2 separate regions of the Homo sapiens genome follow, and region 1 is linked to region 2. Evidence: fine-mapped expression QTL. A gene starts in region 2. The other region holds a variant in brackets. All regions are shown on one strand. Distances are between the middles of the regions. Region 1 overlaps ZNF850 (zinc finger protein 850). Region 2 holds the start of ZNF461 (zinc finger protein 461).

Evidence for each region. PIP is the estimated chance that this variant, and not a neighbour inherited with it, causes the effect.
Region 1: its variant is fine-mapped to the expression of ZNF461 in whole blood (TOPMed, PIP above 0.99).

Annotation. Positions count from the first base shown.
Region 1 is chr19:36,759,398-36,762,310 of GRCh38, forward strand. It overlaps ZNF850 (zinc finger protein 850), which reads right to left. Exons shown (of 5, transcript NM_001193552.2): 3 at 2,908-2,913; 4 at 2,246-2,341. Among named protein-coding and RNA genes, the nearest start is that of ZNF850, 12 kb to the right of the region's middle. The variant T/A (reference allele first, on the strand shown) is at 1,594.
Region 2 is chr19:36,665,552-36,668,464 of GRCh38, forward strand. It overlaps ZNF461 (zinc finger protein 461), which reads right to left and starts at 1,286. Exons shown (of 6, transcript NM_153257.5): 1 at 1,139-1,286. It also overlaps a transcript of ZNF567 not described here. RefSeq lists an enhancer at 1,463-1,592.

The DNA of each region.
Region 1 (2,913 bases), 94 kb after region 2:
CCTGGAGGTCAAGGCTGCAGTGAGCTGTGATTGTGCCACCGTACTCCAGCATGGGCAACAGAGAGACCCTGTCACAAAAACAAAAAAAGAAGAAGCAACACTGAAAAGCTACCTATACATTTAATATTATTGAACTCATGATATCCAGGACTTGCTTTAGTTAAGGGAAGGTGCAGAGGTCAACAGGCATAGATCAAGTAAGATTGGAAACATGGAAACTCATTGATAACTACTGCAGCTAGGAAATGGATTTGGGGGATGTCCATTACACCATCCTTTCTACTTTTGTGTATGTTCAAAGACCTCCGTAATCAAGTTAATAATTAAAAAAAAATTTTTTTGTAATGTTCTATGGATAAAGGGAAATAGTCATCTATATCCTACAATTAAAACGCTTTTTAAAATGGATAGTTTGCATTACTTAAAAGCACATTTTGAAAAACAAAATGCCTTATCTTTTCTACTTCAAAAGAAAAATCCCTCAGTCTATGCTACTTACAGCCCAATTTTTGTCCATGTTAACATTGTCACCAACTTATTGAAAATGGATCACTCCTTTTCCTTGACACTTAAGTCTTCTATATTTAACTTATTGTCCTCTTTTATACACAATCATTTCAGTGTACCTTTTCCTCCTAAAAGCAGGCATATCCTATTCCTTCACATTTATATCTACAGTTCTTTCTTCTAAGCACCATATTAGAAATCTCCTGGTTGAGTCTACTTTTTAGAAAGTGATTTATACAATGATTTAGACCCTTTATTAGGCTGGGTGTGGTGGCTCACGCCGGTAATCCTAGCACTTTGGGAGGCCGAGGTGGGCAGATTGCCTCAGCTCAGGAGTTCAAGACCAGCCTAGGCTATGTGGCAAAACCCTGTCTCTACTAAAAATACAAAAAATTAGCCAGGTGTGGTGGCGCGTGCCTGTAATCTTAGCTACTCCGGAGGCTGTGGCACGAGAATTGCTTGAATTCAGGATGCAGGGGATGCAGTGAGCCGAGATCACTCCACTGCACTCCAGCCTGGGCAACACAAAGAGATATTGTCTCAAAATAAATAAATAAATAAACCCTTTATTAGACTGTAATTCTGATAGCTTATATCTTCCATAACTGTCACCCACCAAGAAAAGAAGGCTTTATGATTTTTTTTTTAAGTCAATAAATTTTGACTAAAAGTGAATGAGGTCAGACGTGGTGGCTCACACCTGTAATCCTGGCACTTTGGGAGACCGAGGCAGGTGGATCACCTGAGGTCAGGAGTTCAGGACCAGCCTGGCCAACATGGTGAAACCCTGTCTCTACTGAAAATACAAAAAGTAGCCAGTTGTGGTGGTACATGCCTGTAGTCCCAGCTACTCAAGAGGCTGAGGCAGGAGAATTACTTGAACCCGGGAAGTGGAGGTTGCAGTGAGCCAATATTGCACCACTGCACTCCAGCCTGGGTGACAGAGTAAGACTCTGTTTCAAAAAAATAAAGTGAATGAATATCCATTGATGCATGAAATGTCTGCATCAAAGGAAAACTAGACAAGACAACACACAAAAAAAGTTAAGGATCAGTATGAAAAATAAATATATTTTGAAAAAAAAA[T/A]TTTTTAAAGCAAGAACACAGGTTTAAATTTCAAAGGGAAAGAAGTAGCTTGAAGACAGAGGAAACAGGATGGCTCCCGAAGAAGGGAACTTTATTCTTTGAAATGGGAAGAAATTATGACAAGAGGGTAGCACAGACTGAAGAGGTGGAAGTAAAAGGGGATTCTTGGCCAGGCGCAGTGGCTCACACCTGTAATCCCAGCACTTTCAGAGGCCGAGGCAGGTGGATCACTTGAGGTCAGGAGTTCGAGGCCAGCCTAGCCCACATGGTAAAACCCCGTCTCTACTGAAAATACAAAAATTAGCTGGGCATGGTGGTGGATGCCTATAATGCCAGTTCCTTCAAAGGCTGAGGCAGGAGAGTCGCTTCAACCTGGGGACGGAGGTTGCAATGAGCCGAGATCATGCCACTGCACTCCAGCCTGGGCGACAGAGCGAGACTCCATCTCAAAATAAATAAATAAATAAATAATAAAATTTTAAAAAGTGTGTGTGGGGGTGTATCGTGACTTCTCTTCATGTGTCTTAGGCCACCACCCTTACATGGGACCTTGAAGAAGAGACTCCTCAACCAATACCTGTACGGTGCTGCCTCCCTGACAGGCTGGCTTCTAAACAGCAGTGTCTTCCCCATGTGCTCAGTCCTTACTCACCTCGGCACCATCCTCCCAGCACGTCCCTTGAAACCATCCAGGGCTCTTTCCCTTGCTCCAGTAAGGAAATCACATCAGGCTTTGGGATAGAGAGACCTGTTTATAAGAAAAGAAGTAAGATAGCCAGGCATGGTGGCTCACTCCTATAATCCCAGCACTTTGGGAGACCAAAACAGGTGGATTGCTTGAGGTCAGGAGTTCAAGACCAGCCTGACCAACATGGTGAAACCCTGTCTCTACTAAAAATACAAAAATTGGCTGGGCATGGTGGTGGGTGCCTGTAATCCCAGCTACTCAGAAGGCTGAGGCAGGAGAGTCGCTTGAACCCGAGAGACGGAGGTTGGAGTGAACCGAGATCATGACATTGCACTCCAGCCTGGGCGACAGAGTGAGACTTTGTCTCAAAAAAAAAAAAAAAAAGAAAAGAAGTGAGACATACTCCTGCTGTTCCTGAATTCAAAGTTAGTCCCTTAGTCCTCATGAAGGACTAGAGGAAGGTGTAGAGTTCTGAAGCATGGAGAAGATGGAGTGACCCCAAAGAGCTGCCCATCTATTAATCTACAAAACACAAAACAATTCCCTAGGCAACAGGTGAAAAGTCACCCAGACAATTGAAAGCTACACCCAAAATTCATGAGTTATTTGCGGATAGACATCCTTACCTAGTG
Region 2 (2,913 bases):
TACAAAAATTAGCTGGGTGTGGTGGCGGATGCCTGTAATCCCAGCTACTCGTGAGGCTGAGGCAGGAGAACTGCTTAAAACCCGAAGGCGGAGGTTGCAGTGAGCCGAGATCGCGCCACCGCACTCCAGCCACGGTGAAAGAGAGAAACTTCGTCTCAAAAAAAAAAAAAAAAAAAGGAAGTTGCAGAACAATGTGTATTGTGGCCAAATCTCAGAAAAAAAAAATCAAACACATAGGTACATAAGCATACTACATATGTGGTGTTTTTCTGAGGCTGTAATGATAAATGCGGGGTAGCAATGTGATTTTCGCTTGTGTTGTGTGTGTAAATCTACAGCTAACTCCTCAAGTAGTCAGGAAAGGATGAGAGATGGATGAATGACAGATCTCTGGAGTGGGGCGTCCTGAGCCTTAGATGTGTGCACAGGAGCGGGGTGAGGTGAATGTGCGTGTGTCTGTGTGTGAGAGACCAGAGTTGACTGAGAGGAGTGGAAGCTCTCTGCCTGATCGTGTGAGCCTGAGGATAACGTGAATGTTTTTTTGTTTTTTTTTTTTTGAGACAGTTTCGTTTCACTCTTGTTGCCCAGGTTGGAGTGCAATGGCGCGATCTCGGCTCACAGCAACCTCCGCCTCCCGGGTTCAAGCGATTCTCCTGCCTCAGCCTCCCAAGGAGCTGGAATTACAGACATGCACCACCATACCCGGCTAATTTTGTATTTTTAGTAGAGGTGGGGTTTCTCCACGTTGGCCAGGCTGGTATCGAACTCCCGACATCAGGGCATCCACCCGCTTCGGGCTCCCAAAATGCTGGGATTACAGGGGTGAGCCACCGCTCCCGGCCTGTAAATGTGCTTTTTCTTTCACGTAAATAAATGAGATTTACACAAATAGCCATTCACAATCATGGTCACAGTCACCTACAAACCCCATTTACACAAATGATCAGGCACACAATCACACTGTCACTAAAGCACACCCACGCACCAGGTCGCTGTCCCAACAGTAACACACAGCCCAAAGAGAAACCCTACTTCCTCACGCATTCAAAACACACCCACCTAAGGGCTGATCCCGCACTCAGAGGCCTAAAACTATAGACATTCCCTTCCGCGGCACTGGTGAGCCAGGATTTCTTACCTTCAGCATTCTCAGGGAAGGCTCTGGTCCAAGCTCTGATTCGGATTCCAAGCGAAGCCACACGCCCAGCTCTTCCTTCTCCACCGGCCCGGGACATCCTTACCTGCCTCTACCCGGAGACCATTCCTGCGAGGCTCCTACCGGAAGTAGCTGTGGACAGCAGTGTCCTCTGGGAAATGCAGTCCGAGGGGAGAGCGCCTGGGGTGGAGCGGGTGTGTTCCGCCGGGCTCCGGGATGCACTTGCGCAGTTTCACCCGAGGCTGGAGTGACGCCAACCTGTTAATGTTCGTTTTCGGATTCTGGACTTCGGGTTCCGCTGAGGACGGATTTCGGAATAGGCACAGTGGCTGCCCCGAACCCCTCAAGGCGGCCTCCGCGGGCTGTGGCTGAAGATAATTTTCGGCGGGCGCGGACTAACCCGGCTTCCCTTTGTGGAGTTGTGGTGAGAAAGGTGTTTTGTTGTGCGCGTGTCCGAAGGTGACTCCGGAGGAGAAGGTGGATATGAACTGACGGTGAGGGTGTAGCGCGTGAGATTTGTATGTGAAACGATTTAAAAAAAAATTTTTTTTTTGGCCGGGCGCGGTGGCTCACGCCAAGGCGGGCGGATCACCGAGACCAGCCTGACCAACATGGAGAAACCCCGTCTCTACTAAAAATACAAAATTAGCCGGGCGTGATGGCGCATGCCTGTAATCCCAGCTACTCGGGAGGCTGAGGCAGGAGAATCGCTTGAACCCGGGAGGCAGAGGTTGCGGTGAGCCGAGGTCGCGCCATTGCACTCCAGCCTGGGCGACAGAGCAACTCCTTCTCAAACAAACAAACAAAACTGTATGTCATATATTTGACTCCATTTATTTATTTATTTAGAGACAGAGTCTTCTTGCCCTGTTGCCCGGGCAAGAAAAAACAAACAACAACAACAACAAAAAACTGTACGTCATATATTTCACTCAACTTTTTTTTTTTCTTTTTTTTTTTTTGAGACGGAGTCTCGCTGTCGCCCAGGCTGGAGTGCAGTGGCGCAATCTCGGCTCACTGCAAGCTCCGCCTCCCGGGTTCACGCCATTCTCCTGCCTCAGCCTCCCGAGTAGCTGGGACTACAGGCGCCCGCCACCTCGCCCGGCTAATTTTTTGTATTTTTAGTAGAGACGGGGTTTCATCGTGTTAGCCAGGATGGTCTCGATCTCCTGACCTCGTGATTCGCCCGCCTCGGCCTCCCAAAGTGCTGGATTACAGGCGTGAGCCACCGCGCCCGGCCTCTTTTTGAGACAGGGTCTTCATGCCCTGTTGCCCAGGCTGACTGCGGTGGCGCGATCCTAGCTCACTGCAGTCTCCACCTCCTCAGCTCCTCCCGCATCCACCTCCCAAAGTGCTGGGATAGCAGGCGTGAGCCACCGGGTCAGGCCAAAACGATTTATTTTATTTTTATTTTTTTGGTAAAGACAGGGTCTCGCTATGTTGCCCAGGCTGGTGGTCTCGAACTCCTGGGCTCAAGCGATCCTCCCGTCTCAGTGGCCAAAGTATTGGATGACAGGTGTGAGCCACCGCGCTGGGTGGTGAAACGGTTTTGAGGCTTTTTGAGAATGGCTGTTCTATATGCCCGCGTGGGGCTCATGCGGCGAGCGCCGCCACTCCCGCAGTGGCCCCTGTGGGGGTGATACGTGATGTGGCTTAAATGTGAGAGGCCACCTGGACCCGTGTGATTGCCACGTTTGCAGGAGCGCAGCCACGTGCACAGGGATCTTGTGACATTCTGTGTGAGGCTTTTTGCGCTG